2 separate regions of the Homo sapiens genome follow, and region 1 is linked to region 2. The links come from fine-mapping of genetic effects on plasma protein levels. Region 2 holds a variant in brackets. A gene starts in the other region. All regions are shown on their forward strands. Region 1 holds the start of CBLIF (cobalamin binding intrinsic factor). Region 2 has its middle 60 kb from the start of CEP85L.

The links. PIP is the chance, under the fine-mapping model, that this variant and not a neighbour inherited with it causes the effect. The UK Biobank Pharma Proteomics Project read protein levels with antibody pairs (Olink). The fine-mapping took linkage between variants from a reference panel, not from the people measured, so its PIPs are less certain.
Region 1: CBLIF starts here. The variant in region 2 is fine-mapped to the plasma level of the CBLIF protein (UK Biobank, PIP above 0.99).

Annotation. Positions count from the first base shown.
Region 1 is chr11:59,838,384-59,854,243 of GRCh38, forward strand. CBLIF (cobalamin binding intrinsic factor) reads right to left here and starts at 7,116. Exons shown (of 9, transcript NM_005142.3): 1 at 6,992-7,116; 2 at 5,496-5,672; 3 at 4,645-4,758; 4 at 4,060-4,200; 5 at 2,760-2,941. The coding sequence starts at 7,070. It overlaps TCN1 (transcobalamin 1), which reads right to left. Exons shown (of 9, transcript NM_001062.4): 8 at 14,820-14,938; 9 at 14,425-14,653. The coding sequence ends at 14,592.
Region 2 is chr6:118,703,302-118,719,161 of GRCh38, forward strand. It overlaps a transcript of CEP85L not described here. Among named protein-coding and RNA genes, the nearest start is that of CEP85L, 60 kb to the left of the region's middle. RefSeq lists silencers at 2,585-2,879, 6,777-6,826. The variant T/A (reference allele first, on the strand shown) is at 10,773.

The DNA of each region.
Region 1 (15,860 bases), not on the chromosome of region 2:
TGTCATTACCACCTCCCTTCCTTTACAGTGCGATTATGGCCACCAGAGCATGTTAATAGGCTGAGATTGTTAATGACTGGTTCACCTGAAGCTTGGAATAGGAAATGGGAGAAGAGAGAGAGAGGAGTCAGAAACGGCTGTCTCAGCTAGGGTCAGTATGCACAACTGGGCAGTTGTGACAGGGACAACCATCACTGAACCTCAGCATCTATGAAGCATGGCTCTGGACAGAGGCCACTTTACAAGGCAGTTGCTTTAAGGGCCATCAGGTGGGTGCTCCTCAGCAACAATATCTTGTCCACTTGTCATATGCACCTCCCAAATTTCACTAAGCAAGGTATATTCATTGGGATTACACATCACCAATGCCAACACTCTAGAGAGGATAACACATTAAGTGGTTAGACGTCATTAATAACTTTCCATCAAGAAGTTTATCAGTTCTCTTTTTCTTTTCTTTCTTTCTTTTTTTTTTTTTTTTTTGAGATGGAGTCTCGCTGTGATGCCCAGGCTGGAGTGCATTGGTGCAATCTTGGCTCACTGCAACCTCCGTCTCCCGGGTTCAAGTGATTCTCCTGCCTCAGCCTCCTGAGCAGCTGGGATTATAGGTGCCTGCCAGCACACCAGGCTAATTTTTGTATTTTTAGTAGAGATGGGGTTTCACCATATTGGCCAGGCTGGTCTTGAACTCCTGACCCCAAGTGATCTGCCCGCCTCGTCCTCCCAAAGTGCTGGGATTACAGGTGTGAGCCATCACGCCTGGCCTATCAGATCCCTTTTCAAGATAAGCGCCTATCAGAGGAAACTTGAAAGCAATAGGATATTCATGGAAGAAAGATGAGAAGTTCTGGAACAGAGGAAATGCCTCATGAGCGTCTTTGGGTAGGGAAGAGTGTGGCCTGGGCCACTGGAAGTGTACTGACATCTTGGAAGAAGGTGAACAAAGGCTGAAAAGGAACTTTACTAGCATCACTGCTCTGCTGAGACAGATCTTGAACAATTGTTAAGCATTACATTATGCATGCATTTTTTTGCATACCACATTTTATTTAACCTAATTGCAACCTTATTATTATGGGGAAAATAAAATCTGGGGAAATTCAATATTTGTCTGAGATGGTGGCAGGTGTGGGAGTCAAACCTAAATTGTGATAGTTCCAGAGCCCTTTGATTTTCTATATCAGAATATTTTAGATTAGGAAAATATTATATATTAGACACCTATTGATTCCAGATTTCAGGATGCCTAAATAAGTTCCAGATAGAGGCAGTAAAAAGGGTAGGGAGAGATTATGTATTCTGACAAGAAATCCACATGGCCTGTGGTATTTGGATGTAGACAGGGTCCTGCCTTTTGATAGGAAAAGCTCTAATTCCCAGGTACAGCTTATCAAAGTGTACTTGGCAGGTGATAAAATCCAAACAGAATTCACAAACCAAGTTAGCAAAAGTAAACACTTCACTGTCTGGTGATAAATTGAAGCAAGGTTATTTTTAGAGAGTCACACATAAAAAAAAAAAATCCCCAAACCATCTTTTATATCTCTTCCAGACTGCCTTTTTCTTTCCAAAAAGCTTCTAGACCAGAGCACTGGGAATGTTCTTGTAAAATTCAGCCATGGAAAAAACAGGGTTTTGTTCTATGACAAAGTCTCCTTGACTGTGACATAGAAATGAACTCTATTTTTATTAGTCACTTCTATATGTGGTCCATTGAAGTGGAAATTTTTTTTTTTTTGCTCTTATGTTTAACATGAACCAATTCTTAGGCTGCTTATATCCTTTTCTAATTTTTAATGTATGAAATCTCAATACTAGTCTCCATTGTTTTCCCCAGGAGACAATTTCTTTCTAATAGTCCGCAACTATGTTAGGTTTAGGGCTGGCATCACCATTCCATGATTCTCCCTTTAGTGGGCTTTCTGAGTTGAAGAGTCCCTGGTCCTATTAATCCCCATAGGACATTTTGAGACACTGGAGCTCAAACTTCTTAGTTGGGATTAGAGGATTCAGCCACAGATGGTTGCTAGTTTCTGATTCTAGTTGGTTATTTCTGCCCACCACCATTGGTGCATCTGTCTTCTATGGAGGCTGCTGCCCTAATCAACTAGGGTAGGGTGGGTTGTTGGATTTGGAACTATGAATACCAAACACATCTTACAGAATCCAAGCCTGGGAATGCATGCTGTGAAAGCACAGAATTGAATATGGACTTGGCTGACAGATAGATCTGCTTTACCATTTACTATGGGTTTTTGTGAGGCTGGGTCAACTTTAGGTTATTTTCCTTAATCATTTTGAGTATAAACTTGCTATTTTTAGATCAAGGTAAAACACTGAAAAAGAACACTTGGCTGGTAAGATTGCATCAGAAAATTGTATATTTTTAGAGGGCCTGCTTTAATATTCTTATTATTTATACATCAAAATTGTAATAGTCTGTAACTATTACAAATAAACTGATCATTATTAATAATAAATTAATATATTTCTTGATTTATTTGTTTCATTTTTTTTCCCAAGAAAGAGAAACAAGTTCATATAGATTTGTTTTCACACTTTACATAGGAGGTAGGGAGGAATTAACACTTACCTGCATTTTACCAGTAGAGAAACTGAGGCCCAGGCACCACAAAGAATATATCTCAGGTCATACTAGCTGGACTTTCACAGAGATGTTAGTAGAAGCCTGGCCTCTTGATTCTGCAATCCAGGCTTATTGGCAGGAACCCAACCAAGAGCATCCAGCACGTGTTTACCTGCATGGCGAGGCCAGTACTGTAGATGTCTCCAATGATGCCATTATCTTTGATCTTCATGCTGATTTTCTCCACAATATCCTTTAGTACCTGACCAAACAGGGATCTGTAACCTTCCTCTGAACCTACAGGGATCTTGTTGTACATACAGGTCAGAGCCAAGGTTGCCATTGCTCCTGTGTCTGTGAATGACAGAGGGTATAAGATCACCATAGTCACCATCACAGCAATATGAACAGCTAACATTTATTGTGTGCTTATTATATTCTGGCTCCATGATTTTATTTGCTCCTCAGAACAACCTGTGAAACAGTACCTGTAATCATCTCCATTTAAGAGACAAAAAATGGAGGCTCAGAAAAATTAAGTAAGCAGCAGGGCCAAATCTCCATTTGAAAGTTGCATAACTTCGTTAAGGGTGCTAGTGTTACTGACAACCAGAAGTAAATAAGTCCAAATTTTTGGAGGCAGAGATGCCCCAGAAATGTGTGAGGTCCCAGATGTGAAAGGGAGACCAGTCTGTTCTTAACCCCCAGGGAGGATCCTAGAGCAGTGGTTCACCTGTTTGTCTGACAGAAACTGAAACAAGAGAGGTTGCTGATGGGGCATGCATAAGGGAGTGAAAACCTGAGATAATACTATTGCTTAGAGAGTTGGCAGAGGAGAAAAGGTGATCATGAATGCGGGCTGTGACAGTGGCCCCCACAGAGAAGGATCATTATCCATAGAAGGGGACAGAAGGAGGACATGATGTTGTAGAGGGAAAAGCTTCTATTCACAAGCAGCCATATGCTTGCAGAACAAAGACGCAAGGTGGTCCCCGAGTTGCCATGAAGGGAAATATCACGAGTTAGGGTTCCGAGAGTAGCTGTTTAATGGAGAGAGGATATTTGGATGTAATGAGGAGAAGCATCGAAAAGAATGGAGTGTGGGAGCATCAGTAGTGATTAAAGAGAGGATGCAGAGGAGAACTGAAGCAAGACATTCATATTTAATTTGGGAAGAACTTCTGACTTGAATGGCATTACTATTGTTCCCAGCGGAGATTCTGTAGCTGCCAGACATATCAAGTATTATCAATTGTCCTTGTTTCTACATAATACTACCCCCTCTTCCTTCACTTACTCCTCAATTCACCTGCCCAACAAACATCTGGTAAATATCTCCCATCCACAGGCACGTTCACATCCTTAGCTCCTCCTCCATGGGACGCTCTCCTTTGTCACTTCCCTGCCAGCTCCACCATTCAGTTCACGATGCCTCTGATGTTCCCAGCTCGGGGTAGTGGTGACCTACTCACCTACATTGAAGGGAGAGGAGTTGGCCAGCAGGGTCTTGGCAAAGCGGACGGCTATCGGCAAGGTCGCCTCAGAGTTCTTCTGGCACAGTGCCAAGATCGCTAGACTGGGCCCATAGAAGGCTGATGCTTCAGCGTTGGGGCCTCCGAAGGGGATAGAGAACCTTCATCAGACTCACAGTCACCACGATGAGGACATTTGCAAAGAAGGAAAAGCCAAGCCTTTGAAAAGGAAATTGCTAGAAAACCTGCCCCCAAAGAGAGACACAGCATAGGCAAAGAGCAACTTCAGTGTTTTTCAAAAGAATGTCATCAGGCATCTGCAAAGAATAAAAGGGATGACTCTGTGTCTTTAGACAGGTGATGGCTGGACAAGCTTGTGTCCTTGGGATCATGACCTTTTCTAGTTCATTTTGGATTGGAAATGAATCTTTCTGGTCTGGATTATCAGAAGGACCAGAGTGAAGGATACATTGTCTCTTCCCTAACTTGCCTTTCTCTCCACCCCCACCCTTTTCCTTTCTGGGTTTAAAATTCTTAGGTAAAACCATATGCCTGACTCTTTTCTCCCTTCCAGTCAGGTCTTACTGGAAGGTGCCCAGTTCTCCATTTGTCTTTGTAGAATGGATACTTTATCCCCAGGGTCTCGGCAGGAGGAGGTGAGGGCCATGATGGTGAGGCCGAGCTGCCCAATGGTTAGATCTGCAGAGAAGAGAACACAACGGTTAGACAGAGACATCCTCAGGGGACAGCTCTCCAGGAGCCAGTGATGAGTTCTCTGCTTTTTATCTAGAGCATTTTGACTTTTTAATAATATGAGCAGTTCTTTGATCTGTCTTTCCAAAGAAAAAAATATGGAAGAATACGTAAGGGAATATTTAATCTAGTGGCCTCTGTGTAACTTGATGACTCTAGTATTTGGTATTTGAGAATCCCTGGTATTTGATTAGAAAAGCAGCAAAATACTCATATAGATTTATATACAGAAATTTACAGTTGCAAAATAATTTAAACTTTATCTAACTTGAGCCTGCAGGCAGCTCCTGGGAGATAGGCAGAACAGAGATTTTATTATTATTATCATTGCTATTAGTAGTAGTAGGGTTATTGTTACTACAATCATCTGCAAGGTGAGGCTGAGCAGTATCCAGTGACTTGTCTCAGATCCCAGAGTTATGACGTGGCAGAGCCAGAACCAGAAGGCTGCTCTTTCGACGTCTAGTCCAGAGCTCTCCCTGCTTTACTGACCTCCTCCATGAATGCTCTGACTTCACACATGTTTCTTTCCAGGTACCTTCCAGGTATGTAAGGAAAGGTGTTTGGGTAGTTTATTTACAGTCAGAGGCAGCATTGGGGTGGGAAGGACGCTGAGTTGGAATCTGGAGGTGGTATGTGATGTGTGAGATTCAGGGAGAGTGCGAGCGGCTCAGATGTCTCACCGTTGTTGTCGCTGGACATGAGCTGGTAAGTCAGGAGCTTCTGGGCCTTCAAGTTGTAGGCTCCGGCCAGATTCATGGCAATCAGGATGCTGGGGTTTGGGTAGGCTGATGAAGTCACCGAGTTCTCCATGAGTACTTGTATTCCATTGACCAAGGGCTCCTGTGCTGAGGGAACGGCTGAGAAGAGGAAAGCCATTTACTCACCTTCTAACCCTCATTCCTTCTCAAAAACATTATCCCCGTGTCTTTGATGCTTTTTCTTTCTTTCTTTTTTTTTTGAGACAGTGTTACTCTTGTTGCCCAGGCTAGAGTGCAATGGCACGATCTCGGCTCACTGCAAACTCTGCCTCCCAGGTTCAAGTGATTCTCCTGCCTCAGCTTCCTGAGTAGCTGGGATTACAGGTGTGCACCACCACGCCAGGCTAATTTTTGTATTTTTAGTAGAGATGGGGTTTCACCATGTTGGCCAGGGTAGTCTCGAATTTCTGACCTCAGGTAATCCACCCTTCTTGGCCTCCCAAAGTGCTGGGATTACAGGCGTGAGCCACCTCGCCTGGCCATCTTTGATGCCTTTTAGGAGAACACTTGATTAGCATTAGTGTCCTAAGTCACTAAAGAGAAATGGAGAAAATGGTGAGATTTTACTTTTGAGGACAATTAGTTTCTACATCTTCTCAAATAATCCATATCCTTAAGAAAGTGATTTTTAAATTTAGTAACTTCAAGCAATATGGCTCATGACATTTCTCATAGTTTCTATCACTTTCCTGGAAATCACTGATTTCCTTGCATTCATTTTTTTCCTTACTCTTTCATGAAGAGTATTAAAGATTTGGGATATAATTTATCCTCAGTGAGTACCAAAATCTCTCACTAGTATGTAGTGGTGTCTGGTCACAATAGCCACTGAGTGTCTGTCTTTGTACCATCAACCATTATTCCTGCAGTAGTACTTCCATCTCTATTATTTTTATTTATTGATTTTTTGAGACAGGGTGCTGCTGTGTCATCTAGGCTGGAGTGCAGTGGTGTGATTATAGCTCACTGCAGCCTCGACCTCCTGGGCTCAAGCGATTCTCCTACCTCAGCTTTCTGAGTAGCTGGGACCACAGGTGCATGCCACTGCGCCCAGCTAATTTTTTATTTTTATTTATTTATTTTTTTTGTAGAGATGGAGTCTCACCATGTTGCCCAGGCTGGTCTTGAACTCTTGGGCTCAAGCAATCCTCCTGCTTCAGTCTCCCAAAGTGCTGGGATTACAGGTGTGAGCCACTGCACCTGGCCCCATCTCTCTTAATAAAAAACATATAGACTTGTCTCTCAAAGAACTTATGCTATTAAGTCAGGAAGGATGAACAGCACACAATCACACTCAGACTTACCCATTTTGGAATTCCTATAGTGATTGCTATTTTCAACCACTCAGTGTCAGAGGTCACAGCCCCTTCCCCAGGGCAACTGCTTCCCTGACCTCCTTGGAAAAACATCATACTCACAGCATGAACTCTGGGTCTGGGTACTAGTCCCAGCTGTAGCCCAGAGAAGGCTCAGGAGGTAGAGGGCAAACCAGGCCATCTCACTCTCTCGTCTATGTCTCTCATCCACAGGTACCGCGATTTGCAAGTGGAATATTTCTTTACCTTCTCTTATATGTGCTTCCCTTTGTTAAATAATCTGTCCCCAACCCAGCCTCTCCTAACTGCCCCTGTGCTGACCTCTCCTTTCCTGATACAAGTAAGTAAATTTTCATTTGCTTATCTAAGTTTACCGACTATAGACCCTCCAAGGTGTCTGAAGGTGACTTCTAGGTTGCACAGTCATATGAGAAACCTGGGGCTGGGTATGCAGTGAAGGCAATGTTGAGAAAATGTCCTTTACCAAAGGCCTGGGTCAGACATCAGGAAGTTTGGATAATGTGCTAGTATCAACAAGACCTCTTCTAGCCCTTATTGTATCCAATCAGTTACCAGGCTGCTTTTTAGTAACTACTTCACTGGGATTTAGGCCATTCATAGGCATCAGCTCATTTTATGATCCTAGACACCTGCTTTACAACATGTCCTTTTAGGCTCTCAGGCAGGGATCTGCCAGGTGACATCTGGCTTTGTGAAATTAATGATGTCTACCTGGACCTGGATTCTAGCCTAGACTCTTTGAAGTTGTTTGACTTTAGGCAAGAAATGGACCTCGGTTTCCCAGAAATGGTTTTGTTTGATTTCTCTTTCCTTATCTGGAGATAAAAGCCATCTCAAACACCCAAAGCTTTCAGATATTATCTTTTAAAGTAAGTAATTAGAAAATGTGAGATCCATTAAGAATACATATTTCAGATGTGTAGCTACATTATAATGCAAATTATACTTCTTTATAAGGGAGAACTGAAAATGGTATGTTGAAATTATAAAGAAAGGAGTTTTGTTTGTTTTTTTCCTGCATGTAAAGTAGCTCATTTTAAGGGGATATTCTCCAGTGGCGCCCATCTTAGCATAAAAGTCAAAGCCCTTTTCATGACCTATAAGACCTTAGAAGATCTGGCTCCTGGTTTCCTTTCTGACCTCAGCTCCAGGCGTTTTCCCCTTTGCTCACACCGCTCCCATCACACAGAACTTCTTGTGCCCCTTGAACACATCAGCTACCTTTGCACATGATGTCCCCCTCAGCCCAGGACCCTCTTCTTTTAAATAGCCTCATGGTGGCTTCCTCACATCCTTCATGTCTCTGCTCAGAGGTAAGCTTTTAGAGACGCCTTCCCAGGCCACCCTACATAAGATCCTACATCCTCACCTCCACTGACACCCCTCATGCCCCTCGCCTGCTATAACTCATTGCCCTCTGTCGCACTAAGTGTGTGGTTGTTTATCGTTTGTTTATCTCCCTACTAGAATGTCTGCTCCACGAGGGAGGGGCTTTGTCTCTTTGGCTCACTGCTCTATCCTTAGCCCTTACAACACTACCTAGCTCACAGTAGAAATAAAATACTTTTTGAATGAGTGAATTAATGAGCAAATGTAAGACATGGGTAATAAAGCATTTTTTCCCCCTTGGGAAACATGGGTGAGTTTTGTGAGATGAGAGCACAGGGTACATACTGGGGTGTGCTGGACAACTTCTAACATGGCCCTGTGTTTTCACCTCCCGGTATTCATGCCTTGTGTAGTCCTCTTCCCTAGAGTGTGGGCTGGCCTGGGGCCACATTCTATTATAATGAATATAATGCAGCAAAGGTGATGGGATGTGGTTGCAAAAGACCGATTTCCCTCTTGCTTGCCTTCTCTCTCTTGCCCTTCCTGCTCTCATGAAGGCAGCTGCTAAGTGTGAGCTGCCTTATGGAGAAGCCCACATATGGCCCCTGAGAGTAGCCTCCAGCCGATATTCAGGGAGAAAAGAACCCTTCCCCAGTGAGCTTTGAGATGAAGGCAGCCCCAGCTGACATCTTGATTGCAGCCCTGGGAGAGACCCTCCTAAGCCAGAGGACCCATGTAAACCCTCCCTGGACTCCTGACCCACAGAAACTGTGGGATAATAAATGTTGTCTTAGGCCCCTAAGTTTTAAAGTCACTTGTTATGCAGCAATATATATCCAATACATGGTACATGGTGGAAGATGAGGCTGGAAAGACAGTTGGCATCTACTTGGTGGACAGCCTTGCATGCTGTGTGAAGGAGTAGGAGGCAGAATAATGGCACTGCCCACACACCGCCAAATGCCCATGCCCTAATCCCTGGAACTTGTGAACATGTTACGTGGGTTATATGGCCAGGAAGAATTAAAGATGCACATGGAATTAAGGTGGCTAATGAGCTGACTTTAAGAGAGGAAGGTTAGCTTGGATCATCTGGGTGGGCTCAATGTCATCACAGAGGTCCTTGTTAGTGGCAGAGGAAGGCAAGAGCGTTAGAATCAGAAAAGCAAATGTGATGTTAGAGGCAGAAGTCAGAATGATGCAATTGCTGGCTTTGTAGGTGGACAGGGGCCATGAGCCATGCAACGTGGGCAGCCTCCAGAAGCTGGAAAAGGCAAGGAAATGGATTCTTCTTCACAAGCTCTGTTACTAGGGGAGCCCTACGGAAATAGCTGGGAGGGCTTCTTATTTTCTTAAACTGTTGTTTTCCCTTAGCCTTTTTTTTTTTTTTAAGATTGTCCCTGTTCCTTTTTTTTCTTTTTTTTTTAATTATACTTTAAGTTTTAGGGTACATGTGCACAATGTGCAGGTTAGTTACATGTGTATACATGTGCCATGCTGGCGTGCTGCACCCGTTAACTCATCATTTAGCATTAGGTATATCTCCTAATGCTATCCCTCCCCCATCCCCCCACCCCACAACAGTCCCCAGAGTGTGATGTTCCCCTTCCTGTGTCCATGTGTTCTCATTGTTCAATTCCCATCTATGAGTGAGAACATGCGGTGTTTGGTTTTTTGTCCTTGCAATAGTTTACTGAGAATGATGATTTCCAATTTCATCCATGTGCCTACAAAGGACATGAACTCATCATTTTTTATGGCTGCATAGTATTCCATGGTGTATATGTGCCACATTTTCTTAATCCAGTCTATCATTGTTGGACACTTGGGTTGGTTCCAAGTCTTTGCTATTGTGAATAGTGCCACAATAAACATATGTGTGCATGTGTCTTTATAGCAGCATGATTTATAGTCCTTTGGGTATATACCCAGTAATGGGATGTCCCCTTAGCCTTTTTATCTATAGATGCCACTGCTTAAAGAGCTCCAGATGGCCCAGGATGCTTCAGGAGCTTCATGATCCCTTGCCAAATACCAGAGGAAGATAAGACCTGCACCAGACCGGTGCAAACCAGAACCGGCAACCCCTAGTTACTTTTAGATCATTAACATATCATTATAATACTAGATTCCTCTCCCTTAAAAGAAAATCGCTGCCATTTTGTGTACATGCGAGGTATGAAGAAGTATGTCTGGGGACTGCGCCTGCGTGTTTGGAACTCCACCCTCGGCCTGCTTACATACCTCCCTGCCCCATGTCTAACTCTTGAAAATTTCCCTGCTTCCCATTGCTTAAGGAGAATGCGCCTTTAGAGCGAGAGCTCCCCTTCTCCATTCCCTGGCCAGTGAATACGACCCAATTGCTTTTGTCCAATTGCATGTTCCTTCTTTGTGACCCATACAAAGTAGGGAAAGAACTTGGTTTACTGCTGCCACCTCTAGAAGGAACACAGCTCCTTCGACACCTTGATTTTAGCCCAGTGAGACTCTGACTTCCAGAACTGTGAGATGATAAATTTGTCTTAAATAACAAAATTAGTGGTAATCTGTTACAGCAACAATAAGAATCTAATACAGGATTATGAGTACAGTATGGTGCTGACTTTGCATTCCAGAGCCTGCTCCTGATCGTCCTGAGATGATCCACACACCCTTGGCCTGCCAGCTCTTTAACCACTCACTTCCTTGTATTATAAATTACCATTTACAACCAGGGCTGCTGCAAGATTGATCGTGACACAATTGTTGCAGTTAGTAAATAATTCCCAGAACAGGAACCACACAGGCCATACATTTCTTAACAGGGATATTTTGACAGTCCTTGGTTAACTATTGACTGGGATGATGTGTTCATTTATTTCCTTGTTTCTCCTGTGCCTAATATTTTGGTATCAAAGCACCTAGACTCTCTCTGGACATAAGTGAGGTTTATTTGTGGTGATTATTCTTTGCTGTGGCAGCAAAAGGAAGTTTCTCTCTTCAGACTCAGTTCAGGTTCTGTAATAGTCTCAAGCTGTAGGAGCTTCTTGTAAGGCAAGTGTGGCCAATTAGGTTTCTTATTTTTATTTTTATTTTTATGTTTTTCTGAGATGGAGTCTGGCTGTGTTGCCCAGGCTGGGGTACAATGGTGTGATCTCAGCTCACTGCAACCTCTGCCTCCCGGGTTCAAGTGATTCTCCTGCCTCAGCCTCCTGAGTAGCTGGGATTACAATTGCCTGCCAATATGCCCAGCTAATTTTTGTATTTTTAGTAGAGGTGGGGTTTCGCCATGTTGGCCAGGCTGGTCTCAAACTCTTAACCTCAGTTATCTGCCTGCCTTGGCCTCCCAAAGTACTGGGATTACAGGCATGAGCCACCACGCCTGTCCTCAGAACTAGGTTTCAAGGGCCGATGTTAGTGGAACCCTAAGGGAGTGTTATTTCATGTCTACTTCTGAGATTAAAGGCATTTATATCAGACAGCAATGTTACTTACTACATTATACTTTTTTTTTTTTTGAGACAGAGTCTAGCTCTGTTTCCCAGGCTGGAGTGCAGTGGCGCATTCTCGGCTCACTGCAGCCTCCGCCTCCCAGATTCAAGCGATTCTCCTGCCTTAGCCTCCCGAGTAGTTGGCACTACAGGCGCATGCCACCACACCTTGCTAATTTTTGCATTTTTAGTAGAGACGGGGTTTCACCATGTTGGCCAGGATAGTCTCGATCTCCTGACCTAGTGATCCACCTGCCTCAGCCTCCCAATGTGCTGGGATTACAGGCGTGAGCCACTGCGTCCGGCCTACATTATACTTTAAGACCTCTGGCTGGGAGAAACTAGGCTCTGTCTGTTAGAAATAAATGCTAGTAGTGCTAATTGCTAGTATGCAATTCTGACATTTTGCATATTTCTCACCTTAAACCAGTATCCTTCAATTTCACATAGCTTGTATAGGCTACAAACAGATCTGACGATTAACAGCACCAGGGATCCTGGAAGGGTAACATGGCTCCCAGCTTCTCTAATTTAGCTTTATTATTATTATTATTATTATTGTTATTATATTTTTAATTTTTGTGGGTACACAGTAGGTGTATATATTTTCTAACTTAGCTTTAAAGATGAGACACAGACCCAAGGGATAGAATCCATTTCTGTCCACTCATGAGGGTCATGTGTTACATCCAGTTAATGAAGACCAGGGCAGAGTTGAACCTGAGCATCGAGTATCAATAGCAGAAAGCAGTATGTTGGAAGAGGGTTCAATCTCTGACTGTGAAGCAGTGTCACTGGTGAAGGAGAGGAAGCTAGGATGATTGTGAAGAAAACACAGGAGAAATGAGGAAGACATTGTTAAAATAATTCACCTGGCTGGGCGTGGTGGCTCACGCCTGTAATCCCAGTGCTTTAGGAGGCCAAGGTGGGTGGATCACCTGAGGTTAAGAGTTCGAGACCAGCCTGGCCAACATGGAGAAACCCCACCTCTACTAAAAATACAAAATTAGCTGGGCATGGTGGTGCATGCCTGTAATCCCAGCTACTCAGGAGGCCAAGGCAGGAGAATCACTTGAACCCAGGAGGCGGAGGTTGCGATGAGCCGAGATCACACCATTGCACTCCAGCCTGGGCAACAAGAGCGAAACTCTGTCTAAAAAAAATAATAAAATAAATAATAATTCAACTAATTCTACCTGAAGGCATTTTTCTTTTAAAAATTACTTTATTTTAAACTTTAAGTTCAGGTATACATGTGCAGGTTTGTTGTGTAGGTAAACCCATGACATGGGGGTTTGTTTTACAGATTATTTCATCACCCAGGCATTAAGCCTAGTATCCATTCGTTATTTTTCCTGATCTTCGCCCTCCTCGCCACCCTCCACCCTCTCATAGGCCCCAGTGTGTGTTGTTCCCCTCTATGTGTCCATGTGTTCTCATCATTTAGTTCCCACTTATAAGTGAGAATATGCAGTTTCCTGTGTTAGTTTGCTAAGGATAATGGCCTCTGGCTCCATCCATGTTCCTGCAAAGGATATGATCTCATTTTTTATGGCTGCATAGTATTCCATAGTGTATATGTACTGTGTTTTCTTTAAAAGTCTATCATTGATGGACATTTAGGTTGATTCCATATTTTTGCTATTGTGAATAGTGCTGCAATACACATACACGCGGTTTATATTAGATTTAGATGTAGAATGATTTATAGTCCTTTGGGTATATACCCAGTAATGAGATTGCTGGGTTGAATGGTAGTTCTGTTTTTAGCTCTTTGAGCAATCTCCACACTGCTTTCCCCAGTGGTTGAACTAATTTACACTCCTACCAACAGTGTATGTGTTTCTTTTTCTCCATAACCTCACTAGCATCTGTTATTTTCTGACTTTTTAATAGTAGCCATTGTGACTGGTGTGGCATGGTGTCTCATTGTGGTTTTTATTTGCAGGAAATTACTTTAAATGGGTTACTTTACACTTTACATAAAGTACCTTTTGTCCTTTGGTATCTTAAGTGTCCTTCTAGTTTCTGACTGTACTGCATGTAGCCCAGGTACTCAGTATAAGTACAAGCTCATGCTGCCTTGATGTGATTCAACTTTTTTCCTTTAAGACGTGACTTCTTAGCATGACAAAAATTGATTAGAAAAATAAAAAAGGAAAAAAGTGAATTCTGTGGAAATGAACATGATAAGTGACTTTTTTGCATATGTATTTTGATGACATGAATATTGGGGTGATTTTATGGGGAAATAAAGGGAAAATAAATGTAAGAGAAGAATAAGTGGGACCCAAGGGAGACATCTGGAGGCAGGGGATGAGATTGTTTCTCAAACTACGGGCAGACCTTTTATGTATATGCCTCACGTTTCCCCCTTTCTTCTGAGCAACATGTTTTTTTTACCCACTACCTGTATGAAATCAGTGTGACCAATGGGCTCCTCTCTTGCATCTGGGCCTCAGAGAGCTCAGTCTTTCACAGACTTTCTGCTTGATCTCATTGGTTGTTGCTGCAACATTAGACCTAGAACCTTATCCCCATTTTACCCAGTTGCCCAATGCCACTGAGATAGTTAGTAGGAGAACCTTGAGTAGAACCCCGCTTATTAGACATGTGGTCTCATTTCTTTTCACTTCAGTTTTTCCTTAGGTGGACTTTCCTCTAATACATTTTAAAATCCTTTCAGAATGAACTAATTAGAACATGCTCTTTTTGTATAGTTGTTAATCTTTCAACAACTTTTATTGAACATGTAGAGAGAGAAGGGGAGGTTATTAACTCTCCTGCTCGTACTGGGATAAATGAAGAAGAAGGCATAAGGACAATAAACATGGAACTCCACTGCAAATGGATTTTATGCAGCTGAGGAAAGTTTGGGCTTATTAGTATTTGCTCCAGCGAACCTCCAAGTTTTCTCCATTGCGGACAACGTAACTACCAGCTCCTGAAAAGGAAGAAGAAAGAGAACTGGGTCAAATGATTTGGCCACTAAATCACCAAATAATGGATGTCATCTCTACTAACCCCTTGGCCCAATCCCCACAGAGGCTCACACCCCTCTCCATTTGGGCATTTTTAGCATGGGTCTTTTTGGCATGTCTCTCCCTTACCTTGGCTCAGTGGTTCGCCTCCACTCAGAAGTTCCCAGTAGGTTCTGTCATTATTGTTGGCACATAGGCCCTGAATACAGGTGATATAGGGCCCCCATGAGCGCTCCTCCATTGTGAAACTGTGGGTGACAGCAAGTAGGTTACTGGAACTTAGAATTGTCAAAGGAAACCAACAATAGGCATTTCTCAAACTTTAATGTACCTGAGAATCACTTGATGACATTATAAAAATGCAGATTTCCTGGCCCTATCCATAGATATTTTTATTTTTAGATATGAGCTGGGGATCAGGAATCTGCATGCTTTATAAACACTCCAGCTGATTCTAATGCAGGCACTCCACACTCCATGCTAAATTAGAGAAATGATGCTCATGGTTTCTGCTCTCCCCACCTGCCATGGTAGATAGGTTTCAGATAACAGCTTCAACCTTCCACCCCAAGATAGTAACTGCTAAAGATACTGATTCAGTAGAAGAACATATGATCCTCATGTGCTAGAGACACCATAAGTTACTGAGTTTTCCCTTAGAAAAGAGGAACAGGAAAGGATAATTTGATATTTCATATTGTGTTTATTAAAAAGTGACAGGTCAGTATCTGTTTTATATTCCGTAGTCATTTTTCTACCTCCCTTAAAGCCCTTGAGGGTAGCCTTTATAATGTATATTATATTATTATTCTGATTTTCTTTATAGCATCCTACACTGTGTTGTTAGATATGATAAATAACTGTCAACTAGAGTTAAGGAGCCAAATAAGTCATACTTTTCAGAGGCAAAGCCATTATTTTAATTTTAATACTTGACCTCCTTGACCAGTTACTTTAGTTTGGGGATCTATGAGTTTTCTGAAAGCGAGGGCAGGGAGAAGCTTCAGGGTATCTGTGAAACCCTCAGTTGAAATGCTAAATTTGGCAGTGGCTCATGCCTGTAATCCCAGCACTTTGGGAGGCTGAGGTGGGCAGATCTCTTGAGCCCAGGAATTCAAGACCAGCCTGTGCAACATAGTAAGATGCTGTCTGTAAAATAAATAAATAAAC
Region 2 (15,860 bases):
ATAAATAACTGATATACCAACCCTTTCATAAGGATTCATGTTCTATCATTTTACTGGGATTTGAAGTGTGTTGTTATTCAACCATACTTAATTAGAAATCAAACATTATAGATAAAAGCTTTTTGAACTCTTAGCCTCAAGTGAGCCTCCCACCCAGCCTCCCAAAGTGCTGGAACTACAGGCATAGGCCACCGTGCCCCACCAGATAACTTTTTCAAAGAGGAATAACTTAAAAACTCAGTCCTATTTTATATGCAGAAAAACAAAAATAGCATATAATCTCTATGGGAGTGAAATATAAGTATGTAACTTCACGCATCCCTGTAAAATATAATGCGATGGCTCAGAGCAGGGACTGGGAAAATGCTATTCCTCTCCTGTTTACTGCAAACGCTTTATGAGCCCCTACCATATGCTCTTGTATTATATCTGGTAGGTACTTTTGGGTGAGGGTTGTGTGGGGAAATGAAAGTGAAGTTGGGGAGGTGAAAGCTCCATTAATAAAATAAAATCCTTAACCAATTAAAATTTTAAAAATATATTTAATGTTATCTGTATCTCATTATTAATATGTACATCATATTCTAATGACCCATGTATTATTAGATAATACATGTATATAATTCATGAATAAAAATGTATCTCTGTTGAGCAAATGCTCAAAAATTTTTTATACGCATATGTGAATGATCAAAAAATATAGAGGATGGGCTAGGAAACATGGTAGCCCTTTTAAGAGACAAATATAGAAGCAAACTATACCTGCCATGTAATATAAATAAGCACACACATGCCTACCAGATATCATGTAACTGGCATGACAAAGTCACTGGGAAAAGGCATACCTATCTGTAATTATTGACCTACTCTGGGCTATGACATTATACCAAACTCTTTGGAGGAATCAAAGATGAAATTAGAAGTTTTCTTGACTAACATCCAATTCTTTTGGAATTTCCCTTTGGGGGCATGTTATTTTAGGGTCATTCTAAGGGTTCATGCCTATAATAAAATGTTATAAAAATATCCCTGGAGCTACCCTGCCCACTGGCTCATTTTCTGAGTGGACTCAACAGACTGGTGGCCTGGGGTTTGTTCTGGGCCCCTTGCCTCAGGTGCACCCTGGTGTGACCTCACACACCACAAAACAGCCTAGTGTTCTGTTTTGTTTTGCTTTTTTGTTTTGAGACAAAGTCTTGCACTGTCGCCCAGGTTGGAGTGCAGTGGCTTGATCTCTGCTCACTGCATCCTCCGCCTCCTGGGTTTTCAAGTGATTGTCCTGCCTCAGCCTTCCGAGTAGCTGGGATTGCAGGCACCCGCCACCATGCCCGGCTAATTTTTGTATTTTTAGTAGAGACAGGGTTTCACCACGTTGGCCAGGCTGGTCTCAAACTCCTGACTTCAAGTGATCCTCCTGCCTCGGCCTCCCACAGTGCTGGGATTACAGGCTTGAGCCACCACGCCTGGCCAAAAGAGCCTAGTTTTAAGCTAAGAGTTCATGGCGCTGGGGCATTTTATTCCTCCATTTGCCTAGCAGCTTCCACTGCAGATGTTTTCTTACCCTTCTGGCTATTTTCACCTTTCTTTCAGTGGCTTTTTTTTCCATTTTTAAAAATTCACAGGCTTCCTGTTTCTAAGTATTTACCACATTTCTGTTCATGCTTTTTCCCTGACTTTTATTTTTCACCCCTTCTTAGCCCTCTCTCCCAACCACATCTGTTTTACTCCCTTTCATTTTTTCCCCATTCCTTTATTCCCTGCTGTCCTGTTTTTCTTTGTTCAATTCAGAACATCAGCCGGAAGCTTCCCTGTTGCTAAGTAACCACATCACCCACACACACCCTTTTCCATTTTCAACTTATTTCTTCTGTTTTAATAAACTCATGGGGCCGAACAGTCTCTAAAAGAAAACGAGAGGTGCTGCTGTCTTCTCTTCATGCAGCAGAGATGCATACCCTCTCATATCCTGCCTTTTCTTATTAGATTTTGGCTTCTTGTTTTATTGATAATTTGCCCCAGACTGTGAGATAACACTAAATAAGCACAAAATATCTTTTTGGGCTTGGACAATTTGCAGAAGGGAGGAAGAGATATAATTTCTGCAGAAGGAACAATGAAAATGTTTAAAATATAGTTACAAGGCATGGCATGGGCTCATTGAAGGGTGTTTGCCTTGACCCCGGAACCAAATCCAGCCCTCCCTAGTAAAAGGTTTCCATTAGGGATCAAGTTAGCTAGCAAGTCCCTCTTAACATTGTTGAGTTGTGAGGAAGCTACTAATGGCATGGTAAGTGTGATTTGCACAAAATGAAGGATAAAACAATACAAGAAATCATTATGTGGTTTTCCAAATCTCAATCCTTTTCCAGACATCAATCTGACATGGCACTTGTGCCAAAGGCATAATTGGAGGTGTGTGAGCCCTTCTCACAATATGCTCTTGAGGGATTCCAAGTCTTCTGGCACATTTTAATAATTTAATGGGAATGGTAACTCCATATGTCCAAACACTAGGGCAGAGTAACAGAGATACCAGGAGATTTGAAAAAAAATCTTTTCACCCTTGCAATACCATAAATAATTTCCTTGCCTGGTGTGAATTCTTTCTCTGACCTCTTGCATTTATGCAATGCCTGGGAGGCCTTTCCTGCTAAGCCCGCCCCCACATTGTTGCTCTCAGCTTTTTGCCCACAGTGAGCACTGTGCTAATTGGGTAGATTTGGGAGCTGCTTCTTAAGAAGTATCACGGCCGTCTATGTAGGTGTGTGTCCCAGCTCCTCTGGTAGTGCTCTGTGCTCTCTGTCAGGGAAGGGCTCGTATCCAGCATGTAATGAATACTCAATAAGTTGCCTTAAATTTAACCACAGAACACAGACACTCTGACAAGGGGATTATTTTTAGTTTCATTTTCTAGATAGAAGAACAGTGGTTTTCTTCATATTGAAGTCTAAGTTCATCAATCAAAGTGCCAGAAATGAAGCTGATGCATTTCCATCACTATCCTGAAATGCAGATGGAGCATTTCAGTAGAGGGAAATTTCAAAAGCTTTATTTGTCAAGACCTGTTGATATTCTGAAAGCAGAAACCCTGTAAGACTAAAACCTACTCTAAGGTATTCTAAGAATGCCTAGCCAGAACTGGAATTGGCAAGCTTTTTCTTTCTAGAATCTAGCCCCTTTGAGATGTTAGGTCTTCTGAGAGTTTCAGAAAGTTTTAACATAATTTCAACTTTTATCTTAGGGTAACCTCAACTGATGAAACATACATTTGAACCTCCTGGAATTTTTATTTTATGTGCCACTTACTTTAAATTATACAAAACCTTCACTGTCTTCCAGTATTCACTTCTCTTTTAACTTTCTTTTCTCAACTTGAGATATCAGGAAACGCCACCATGTCATATTTTCTTTTCTTACATTTTTGAACATCTAATTCCTTTTTTCCTTTCCGTCCTCCTCATCAATGTGGTCTAGTCTTATAGGGAACTTTTCTCTCCAATCACAATCCCCTCCTCTTCCACTTCTCGCTTAGCTACTCTTCCCACACCCCAAAAAGACTCTCGCTTTGTGATTCCAGTCCTGGAATTCTTTCCCTATTAGTGTCCTCTTCACTTCACTGCTTCCCTACCCCATGGAGCTCTCATGAGCCATCCCTTTAACCATTCTCTTCAGTATCTCAGTTCCCTTGCCCCTCATTGGCCTGGCAAATCCCCAAACTTCAATGAGTTCATCTTCATATCTCCCTGTCTGAGCCCAGGCTATCTCTCCTGGAGAGAGATCACAACTCTGCCATGGATGCCATTCCAACTCTGTGACCCCAAGTACTGGTCCCTCCAGGCTGGTCCCAGCAGTCCTCCTGGGTTTCCTTCTCATATTCCTCCTCATCTGCTTTTTTTTTTTTTTTCTTTTTTGAGACAGGCTCTTACTCTGTCACCCAGACTGAGCTCATTGGAGCCTCAGCTCATTGCAGCCTCAACTTCCCAGGCTCAGATGATCCTCTCACCACCTCAGCCTCCCCAGTAGCTGGGACTACAGGTGTGTGCCACCATGCCCAGCTAATTTTTGTATTTTTTGTAGAGATAAAATTTTGCCATGTTGCCCAGGATGGAATGAAACTCCTGGGCTCAAGCAATCCTCCCGCCTCGGCCTCCCAAAGTGCTGGGATTATAGCCATGAGCCACTGCACCTGGCCTTACCTCATTCTTTTTAGCTCCTCATTCAATTCTACAGTGAGGAAGCACCAACACTTACTAAACTACTTCCTTTTTATTAAACTTCATTTTCTGTTATTACAAAGAATGTGCTAATGAGATGCTTATGCATTTATTTTTGTTTATATATCTAAGTATTTCTGTAGGATACATAGAAATTTTTAGGTAAAGTGGCTTGAAATTTTTAGGTATAGGAGTTTTATACTTTTTGCTTGTAAATATATTTAAACATGTGCAAACTTTTATGTATTAAAATAGGCAAAATACGTAAAACCTTAATTCACGGAACAGCAAATCTGAACCAATGAACATATATAAAGATACTCAAGCTCACTTATAGCCAGGAAAATAAAAATTAAACATTGCAATATCACTTTATAGCTACTAAACTGTCAAAAATCTAAAAGACCAATACAACCTATTACTGGTAGAAATATGGGAGAAAGAGTTGCTTTTTTGGGGGGGGGACGGGGGGGAAACAATCTGGCAGCATCTACTAAAATTTAAAAAACATATATAGACTTCAACCGACAAACCTACTAACTCTTAGAGTTCAATCCTATAAAATAGAAGGCCAAAAGGTCGGAATATATAGACAAAGATATCTTTGGGAATATTCATTTCTTCCTGCAAATATTTATTAAGTTCGGACTATATTGCCATCACTTCACAGATGAACAAGGCACAGGCCCTGCCCTTAAGTTACTCACAGCCTGTCTGGAGACAGATGAGTACACAAGCAACTGGAGTTCATGAGCGAGGTGTCTAGAAGCAATCTGGGCCTGGGATGGAAGGCTGCAAAGACTTCACTGAAAAGCAAATTTGCAAGACTGTAAAATACAACATGCTTCCAAGGCCTTGGATTAAGTTGTGTGGTCCAGGATAGCTGAACAGAGTAAAGATACCTGGATATAGGGAAAAGATAACCCATAAACTTTTCACGAAACAAAATTGTGTTAATAAAAGTCACAGGTACTCTAGTTACTCTAGTGGCAGTGGAGACAGAATATGAGATACACAATGAAAAAAGAACTTACTTTTTAGGAAGAGAATTAAAAGAGTCTATTATTAAATGGTAGCCAAAATGCTGTTTTTCTCGTATACCTGGCACAGAACCTACTCTTGAAAGCTATGTGTTGAATCAATAAAGTATGACATGGGAACAGCATATAAAAAGGTTTAGCTCAGATAAACTTGAATTCAGTCAATAATCTCACCTATTTAAGATTTTTCCTTGAATAGACTTTTTTCCTTCCTTCCTTCCTCCCTCCCTTTTCCCTACCATTTTTCAGGCGAAAGAAAGACTGGTCAAATAGGGGTTCTAAATCCTGTTAACCTCACTTTAACCCTGTTATTTCACCATTTAATGACAAGGCAAAACCATCAGCTCTTAAATCATGAACTTTAAATGCCAAAAACAGTGTTGAGAAATTTTTAAAATATGAGTGTTATATAGAAAAAGAATGACTAACACTAAAAGCAAACAAAACAGGCAGTTCATTAGAAACCGGTAATATAGAATAGCCCCGATTTTGTACCTAACAGATCTCGGAAAGGGACTGACAGCCCACAGAGAAACAAGAGCAGCACATCAAGACGAAGGCACATTTTCTTCCCAACTGCTGTCATTTAAGGAAAACCCATGAGCGTGAGTTCTCTTATGGGAGGGTAGCGACCTCCATGAAATCATGAGAACATTCCCCCAGTCTAAGTGCTGCCTGGCTTTACTCCCACATCAACAGCAAAACAACTGCATAGCAACCTACATTTGCCCATTTCCTCACTCATTAATGTTTGTCCAGAGGAAACACCCCTGCCAGTCCCTGTCTGCTTTGTAAAGTATGTCAAACAGGAGTTGAGTGTGTACGCCAGATTGGGAAGTGACACATGCTGGCATTTCTCAGCGCATGCGGCTCCCCACTCGGCTTTCTGGAGCTCTGCCTTTTGGCGACAGAGCAGCTAGAGCTCCTCTCCCCTCCCCCATTTCCTCTCATAAAGATAACCAGTAACAACAATTGGCGTGTGTGTGTGTGTGTGTGTGTGTGAGAGAGAGAGAGAGAGAGAGAGAGAGCGCTCCCAGTTGGCCAAGTACCCTTTACATCCAGTGACCTGTTTTACGAATAATAGGAAAGACTTTCCAGCTTATTTTCTGCATTCTCAGGAGTACGCAGAGTTCACAGTAAATGCAGAGTAACAGTCATTTCTAAAACAAAGATAAAACACTCCAAATGCTGCTCTGCAAAGACCATTTGCCATCTGTTCCTTTCCCCCTGACAGGGCTGCTTATCAGGACTCCAGCAAGGACACCATCATAGCAATCTAGATCCGAGTACTTTTCCTCTGTTGCAGGGGGTGTTTCCTTGAACTTTCCCATCTGCTTCTAAGCAAGAGGTATAAAATATTATCTATAAAATAAGACTAGCAAATGACTCACAGTGAATAAAAATAAATCAGGGTGTAGTTTGTCATCATCTTTAAGAGAAAAAAAAAGGAAAATGCTCCACAATTGGAGAAACAACTCACTTTTTCAAACCTCCTCAAGGAACGTCTTCAAATGATAGGCAGGAAATGGGTATGTGGGGGTTAAGTTAAGCTCAAGTAAACTCAAGTGGCAAGAGCATGATCCAGCCCCATCATACATATTCATAAGAGGCAACCTGAGCTTCCGTGTAAAACCACAGTGTGACTGTATTTCCTGCACACACTTTGCATCCCACACAGCCCGGACACACTGCAGCACTGGAGGGGCACAATGCCTTGCTTTAAAACATGGCTCAGAAGAACCATAATTGTTCATTGACAACTTAACCTACACATTGACTGGATGTTCTCCATAGGCCTTATGACAGCTCAAGAAGTATCTGTCAGGATGCAGTTTGAAAGACATCATTGTGCAAGTGTGAATCTCAAGGCTTCGGCTGCTAAGAAGCAAAAATGGAATATGGTTATTTGTTTTCAATAAAGCATTGGGCATTTATTACTAATACTCTAATGGAGAAACAGGTCAGTCTAACCAACATGGGAAGATGATAACACTCTATATACTGCTTCTCTTCTCAACAGACTTTCTACAACAAAATACCCATAGTTTCAGCTGCCAGAAAATATAAACCAAAGGCCTTGTTTCAGTGGGATTTGGGGTGGCATCGATAGTATAGTGGTAAACATAACTGCTTTTCAGTAGAATTTGGGAAGGCATGTACTGGGTTTTTCTTCATTCACTCAACAAATATTTATTAAGTGCCACGATGTGCCAAGTACTGCCCTGGGCACTTGGAAAAACCACAATGAACAAAACACAAAAGTCCCTGCATCATGAAGGCTATGATCGCGGAGTGTTTCAGACTGCCATGCTCCTCCAGAGAGAAAGAACACCTTATCATGTGCCTGTCATTAAAGGGCCTGGACCTTTTTCTTCAATTTCTTTCAAATGCCCTCGATGACTCTGTCAATGAAGTTTGTATGTGTGCCCATATGTGCTGTTTGAAAGAAGGAAGAGAGAGGGAAAGAAAGCAACACTGAAACACGATTCAAAAAGTGATAGAAAGATTTACCTTTATGATTGGGAAAGCCACAAAGACATGAGTACTGGGAAACACAAAAGAACACTAGTGCAGATGGAAAAATCTATTTGTTTTATTAGGAAGATGGAAAATATTATCAAGATGTCAACTCTTGGCCAGGCACAGTGGTTCACACCTGTAATCCAGCACTTTGGGAGCCCAAGGCAGATGTATCATCTGAGGTCAGGAGTTCGAGACCAGCCTGACCAACATGGTGAAACCCTGTCTCTACTAAAAAAAAAATACAAAAAAATTAGCGGGGGGGTTTGGTGGCACATGCCTGTAATCACAGCTACTTGGGAGGCTGAGGCAGGAGAATCACTTGAACCTGGGAGGCAGAGGTTGCTGTGAGCTGAGATCGCGCCATTGCACTCCAGCCTGGGCAACGAGGGCGAAACTCTGTTTCAAAAATGAAAAAAGATGTCAACTCTCATGATTTAAGCTATAAATTTGATATATGACAAAAAAATTCATAATGGTCTTGTGAACTAAGTTGATTCAAAGCACAAAGAAAAATCTGAGGGGGAAAAGTCTAATGAGGGAGGAACTAGCTCTACCAGATGCTGAAATATAAAGCTTTGATAACTGAAAGTGTATGCTAACTCATAAATAGACAAAACGGTGGAACTGAATGAAACACCGGGAAATAATTCCAAATCCATTTGGGAATTAAATATCTGATCAACATGCCACATTGCCCATAGGTCTGTTGACCTCAGCAGCATTGTCAGTCATGCAGTGTGGTCCTTCACCTCCTTCTCATTAGGAGGCTTGGAGCTAACCAGAGGTTGTGGGTTCAGGAGTAAGAAAGAACACTGGGCTTAGATGGCTAGACACCAGAGCACCAATCTTGCTCTACCACCTGTAACTTGGTGACCTTGTGTTGAGCTTTGGTTTCATTGTCTATAATATGAGGATAATGAAATCCATTGCCAAGCTTTATTGTGGGGATAAGTTTATATAATATATGAATCTACCTAACAAATATCAACTATTTAACAAAATAAACATATTCTAATTGAATAGCTTAACGGGCATCTTAACTCCAGGTTGACAGTTTCACAATTTGTCTGTCTGCAGACAGAAATTGCTTTTTAAAAATCTCAAATCCTTTTTTTTTTTTTTTTGCCATTCAACATGTAAATAAGATTTAGAAAAAAGAATTATTTTAAAGCTCAGATTTAGAGTCAATGATTTCCTTACAGAGGAAAGTCTTTATAAATAAGATCAAGTTGTTGAGTGGGTGGATGAAATCCAGCAAGAGAAGTTTCAGTTACATAGCACAGGAAAGGATCTTCTTTTTTTTTTTTTTTTTTGAGACGGAGTCTCACTCTGTTGCCCGGGCTGGAGTGCAGTGGCATGGTCTCAGCTCACTGCAAGCTCCGCCTCCCGGGTTCACGCCATTCTCCTGCCTCAGCCTCCCGAGTAGCTGAGACTACAGGCGCCTGCCACCACGCCCAGCTAATTTTTTTGTGTTTTTAGTAGAGATGGGGTTTCACCATGTTAGCCAGGATGGTCTCGATCTCCTGACCTCGTGATCCGCCCGCCTCGGCCTCCCAAAGTGTTGGGATTACAGGCGTGAGCCACCGCGCCCAGCCCAGGAAAGGATCTTTTAACTTCTGTGTTTTAAAGGAAGATGTGGAGCTTTTTAAAGATGACGCTGCACTAAGCATGAGCTGATGGAAACCTGTCCTGTGTGTAGAGAGCACCCAAGGTTCGGGTGTTGTGCCAAAATGGAGACCTTACTCTTGGACAAAAGAAGCTTGAACAATTTATGGTGAGGGTAGAAGTACAAACAAAATTCCATGTAATTTTTTAATTTCCACCTTTGGTTATATTGTACAATTCAGTGCCTAAGGGATCAAAGGATGTTGAAGAGAGTTTTGGGAAATCACATATACTCTTGGGAAACTTCATGACAAAGGGCAATCTTGGGCAGTGTTGGAAAGGGACGAAGTGGATCACTTGGTGGAAAGTGGCAGGCAGAAGAGTATGTGGATGCCTCAGAAGTGGATGTGGTTAAAGGATGGAACAATGAAGGGTTTGATGGCTGCAATAAGGCGTACAAGACAATGAGATGAGTAATAAGCTGACAGAATGCTTGCTGAATAATCCTGATTTAAATTTGTCAGGCAAGTGATGAAAAGAATGTTTGCTGCTGGCCAGGATGGTCTGACCGAGAAAGCTAGACACAAGAGACAAATAAGGCTATTTCCATTGTCTAACTAACAATGCTTAGGTCCAAGCTGGTCTGAACCTGTGAGAACAGAGACAGTGCACAGCTTTGAAAATCCTGTAGGACAAGGAATCATGGAATTGGTGATTTTTCTGGACAAAATGATAGAGGAAAAGGTTTAACAAGGTTAGGATCATAGAAAGCTGACAGGAGGATGGAGCCATTGTCAACAAAGAGAACTTCAGACCTGCTAAGCGTTTGTAAGGAGCACAAGGAGAGAAAATAAACCCAATTTTGGCTGCATTTGGCTGTGGATGACAACCAGCATAACAACCCAATCTCCATCAGAAACGGAATCAAGACTTTAAATATAATAAATTCAGAATTCTTAGCAAAAAGAATATTGTGCTGTTTCTTTTGTTATGGGGCTAAAATTGTTCCCATTTATGATAGGCACAAAATATACTTATGAAAGTCATGCTTATCACTGACCTACATCTTCTGTAAGGAAAATGTATGTTACAGACACCAAGAAGAAGATCTCACCTCCCACCTTCTCTGTGATAGAGAAAATAGCAGAGGAGCACATTTTTGACAATCTTGCTAACAAGGGGAAACATTTCATGCAGTATCATCAGCTCCACAATCTGTCTTACTCCCAAGTCCACCAGCTGCTAAAATAATGAATTTTCTTTAGGTCATCATTTTGGTCTTTTCTTGGATACTGGTCATTGAAAAGGTGAGATGTTATTAGGTCATTGTGTGGGCTCCCAGATGGATGTCAGAGATGGGGCCATAGCTAATTGTGATATGAATATAGGA[T/A]TTACATAATCAATGCCTATGTCACAATGTCCCGTAAGAAAATCAACATCATTATTTTATCATTCACACCTCATTTTTTATAAATGGATTAATTATTCACCCAATTCACCAGGTTTGGCTTTGAACAATCCTCAGGTTTCCCTTTCCCCCAGGACATGTCCTTAAATAAATTGAAGCATTTTTGTCACAATGTATTATAGTTTTAAACATATTTAGCAGCAGAACTTTTATTTTTCTAATGAGAACCTCAAGTTATTAAACAGTCAATATTCATTAAGGTCTTTCTCACCTTATTTGAATTTTCAGGGATTGATGGAAATTATGTCATTCTTTGTGAACTTCTGAAAAGCCTATGGAAATGAAGGCAAGTCCAAAAGAGATCCCAGCATCTTCTGAGCACCCACAGAAGAGTAGAGCTGCCCAATGTGACTACATATAAGAGCCAATGTTATATGCTGTTTGATATGCTTTTAGAAACATTAACCACACCTTGTATTACATAAAAGCAAAGGCTTTAGAGTCGGACAGGCCTGGGTCTGAATCTTGCTGTATGATCTTCAGCAGGTTACTTAGCCTCTCCAAGACTCAGTTGAAACTTCTGTGAAATCGATATAATAATACAGATCTTAAAATGTTGTTATGAGGGGAAAACGATGTGATATGTGTAAAGAACTAGCACAATGTCTAATGTATAGTAAGTGCTCAAAAATGGTAGGTAATAATTATACTATTGGAAATAATAATAATTACCTTACCTTATAGGGTGTAATCACCAGAGTGTGTAAGACAGAACTGCAGAGTTAGTAATGACTAACTGCTAGTTTAGTTAATGAGCTAACGGCCAGTTCATACCTGGCTAGCGTGCCACGAAATGGAATTTCTAACTCTTCTATCATAAATAGCATCAGCAAGTAAGACACTGAGGAGTCAAAATGCCACCTGGGTATGTATTAGTCCATTCTCACACTACTATAAAGAACTGCCAGAGACTGGATAATCTATAAAGGAAATAGGTTTAATTGACTCACAATTCCACCTGGCTTGGGAGGCCTCAGGAAACTTACAATCATGGCAGAAGGTGAAGGGGAAGCAAGTACTTTCTTCACATGGTGCCAGGAGAGAGAACTAGCAAGAGCAGGGAAAACTGCCTTATAAAACCGTCAAATCTCATGAAAACTCACTCACTATCATGAGAACAGCATGGGGGAACTGCCCGCACCCTCCCCCACCCCGCCCCATGATTCAATTACCTCCCACCAGGTCCCTCCCTCTTTATGTGGGGATTATAGGGATTACAATTCAAAATGAGATTTGGGTGGGGACACAGCCAAACCATATGAGGATATAAGGCTCTTCAACGCATACTTTTAGCAGAGTATCTATGATTTTAGTGAGTAGACCTTGACAGCTAAATAAAGCTATCTTCCTTCTGTCAGGATCCTGGGAACTTCTTCTATAGATACTCATTGTCTTATTTTAAGAACTGCCAGAGAAACAGATTCCACAACTTCCCTTAATAACCTATTTCTGTGCTTAGTAATTGTTCCTCTTAGTAAATCTTCTGAGCTAATCTGAATCCTTTGTGCTCTAATTTAAGGCCAGTCATCTCACATTTAATTCAGATCTTATTGATACCTGTATCACTATTGAACCAAATTACAACTAGAAATATTGACAAATGTGTTATCACGGAGATTTCAGCATGAGCATATGCATTTGACAATCAACTGTGATGAGTTAACATGCCAGAGAGTGGTATTGTTCATGTAATCAGAGACACATTAGCAGTGTTCTCTTAAAGGCACAGCCCCAGTTCATCTTTGACAATTGTCACACACTGACTTGTGTGACATGAATCAGAAATAAGCAGTATTTTAAAAGCCAGCAAAATGAAAGGAACAACATCTAAGTTGTTTTCGGCAGAGTTTTCTGCTGCTCTGGCCAAGATGCATCCCAGAGATTTGGTTTTCAGGGTGTTGGCTCATTCTCGTTATTTATTTTATTTTATTTTATTTTACTTTACTTTACATTTTATTTTATTTTATTTTATTTTATTTTATTTTATTTTATTTTATTTTATTTTATTTATTTTGGAGCAGAGTCTCACTCTGTCACCCAGGCTGGAGTACAGTGGTGTGAGCTCGGCTCACTGCAACCTCTGCCTCCCAGGTTCAAGTGATTCTCCTGCCTTAGCCTCCCGAGTAGCTGGGATTACAGGTGCCTGCCACTACGCCCGGCTAATTTTTGTATTTTTAGTAGAGATGGGGTTTCACCATATTGGCCAGGCTGGTCTCCAACTCCCGACCTCAGGTGATCCTCTCACCTTGGCCTCCCGAAGTGCTGGGATTGCAGGTGTGAGCCACCACGCCCAGCCAAGCTCATTCTCTTTAAAAGGTACCACTTCCTGGTCTGGTTTTTGGGATGGTTCGGCTTTTTAAGTCATGTCCAGAATTAATCAATAGCAAAAAAACCCAGCCGGGAGCGGTGGCTCACGCCTGTAATCCCAGCACTTTGGGAGGCCAAGGTGGGTGGATCACAAGGTCAGGAGATTGAGACCATCCTGGCTTACACGGTGAAACCCCATCTCTACTAAAAATAAAAAAAAATTAGCCGGGTGTGGTGGCACATGCTTGTAGTCCCAGCTACTCGGGAGGCTGAGGCAGGAAAATAGCTTGAACCCGGGAGGCGGAGATTGCAGTGAGCCGAGATCGTGCCACTGCGCTCCAGCCTGGGCAACAGAGCTGACTTGAAGAAAAACAGAAAACAACAACAATAACAAAAAACAATAAATCAGCCGGGCGCAGTGGCTCGATCCTGTAATCCCATCACCCTGGGAGTCCGAGGCGGGTGGATCATGAGGTCAGGAGATCGAGACCATCCTGGCCAACATGGTGAAACCTCGTCTCTACTAAAAATACAAAAATTAGCTGGGTGTGATGGCATGCAGCTGTAATTCCAGCTACTTGGGAGGCAGAGGCAGGAGAATCGCTTGAACCCGGGAGGCAGAGATTGCAGTGAGCCGAGATCACGCCACTGCACTCCAGCCTGGTGACAGAATGAGACTGTCTATAAATAAATAAATAAATAAATAAATAAATCCCTTGAAGCCCACATCCAGGTGAAAGTGACGTTTCTTTCTTTATCTTCATGTGTCAGAGAAGTACCAGTCCAAATACCACTGCGTTCAGGAGATTTGAAAAGCAGTGCTAAAAAGGGACTCAAGCGGAGCCATCGCAGGTGCCCGGCCATCTGCCCAGCAAAGCCAGGCGTGCCGCCAAAGACCCTGCAGCCTTTCTGTGTAGACTAGGTCGGAGTTCCAGAAGTGTTTTTTGAACATGATCCCTTGGGTACTGTCGCCCACCACAAAGAAAAAGTGGTTAAAACAAAATGTTCAGAGGCCGGGCGCGGTGGCTCACGCCTGAAATCCCAGCACTTTGGGAGGCTGAGGCGGGTGGATCACGAGGTCAGGAGATTGAGACCTTCCTGGCTAACAGTGAAACCCCGTCTTTACTAAATAAAATACAAAAAATTAGCCAGGCGTGGTGGCAGGCGCCTGTAGTCCCAGCTACTCAGGAGGCTGAGGCAGGAGAATGGCGTGAACCCGGGAGGCGGAGCTTGCAGTGAGCCAAGATCGCGCCACTGCACTCCAGCCTGGGAGACAGAGCGAGACTCCGTCTCAAAAAAAAAAAAAAAAGTTCAGAAAACATAGTATACAGAGGTGGACTGACCATAAACTGAGGAGGTATAAGATTTATTCATATAGGTCCCATTCAAAGACTTACACCTAAGGTATATTCATGATTTGTGTTCTCAGAATCACATATTCCCGGACCGCTCTGAAACCCACTTTCCTCTTCTGTAGAACAGCACTGAATATACCTCGCCTGCACCTAGTGTTCCTTATCTTAAAAGGGCCACCAATCCCAGCACTTTGGGAGGCAGAGGTGGGAGGATCATTTGAGCCCAGGAATTTAAGACCAGCCTGGGCAACATGGCAAGACCTCATCTCATTTTTTTAAAAAAGGGAGAGGGCACCAAAATCAGCTTCGGGACCCCCAAATCTGGATCCCACACCTGACTTTGGGAGTTTGCTTATTAATCTCATTATGTCCTAAAGTAAAGACTTCTGCCTAATTTCATGTAACCTAATGTTTCCTCTTGAGTGGTAGTAGGATAGCACTCTCTCTTTCCTAGTGAGCAGTCTGTCACACAGGAGGAAGATGACAGGTGACAGAGGTCACAGTAGTCCTCATATCACCCAGCTTCTCCCAGCCCCCACATGTCCGCGTGCCTTTCCCCCAGCCCCTGCCTCTCTAGATATTCTCTTCTTAAGGACATTTCATCTGGCAGGTGAGCAGGTCTCAAAGTTCCCGTTTCAGTTCCCCAGACATCCTTTGGAAGTGAGTGTCCTTTCCAGAGCTTTTATGTCACCTCCTTGTCACTCTCAATTAGAATCTGCTGGGCATTGCCTGAGCTCCCAGAAAGAACTGGGTCCTTTAGGACATAAAGAGAAATGGAAAAGGAAACTAGGAAGAAGAGCAGAGGTGGGTAAGCGACATTGTATTTATGCCAAGGGAACACAAAATGGGTGTGAGTATAACACAGAACCAGGTGTTCATAAATTTTTGTATGGGAGTGAATTGGCATTTTTTTCTTAGCATTCAAGTTTTAGGAGAAGAAAGGAGACCCTAAGCTTCTTGTGAAGAAAGGACTGCCTTCTACCCGCCAGGCCTGTTTTGGATTCCTGAAAGAGAAGAAAGGTTGCAGGGTTGGACCTGGTTAGTACTTGGATGGGAGAGAGTAGAAAGGCTTGTTCTTGGGCTTCCCACCTCCCACCAAATGTATCCTACGTACCTCACCTCTACGGAGTGACCGTCCAAACCTTAGAGTAGGGACTTGGCGAGAGGTGGGGGCATAGAAGCCTGTGGCATAAATGGCAAGTACGGTCTCTCTGTGTGATCAGCATGGGTCAGTCTCCTCCAAACATATGCTTTGGAAGTCCCTGTTGTGGTGAAAAGAGCCCTGCATGGAGTTCAGAGGGCATCTTGAGTCACAGTCCTGTCACTTACTGATTCAAAACATGTGATG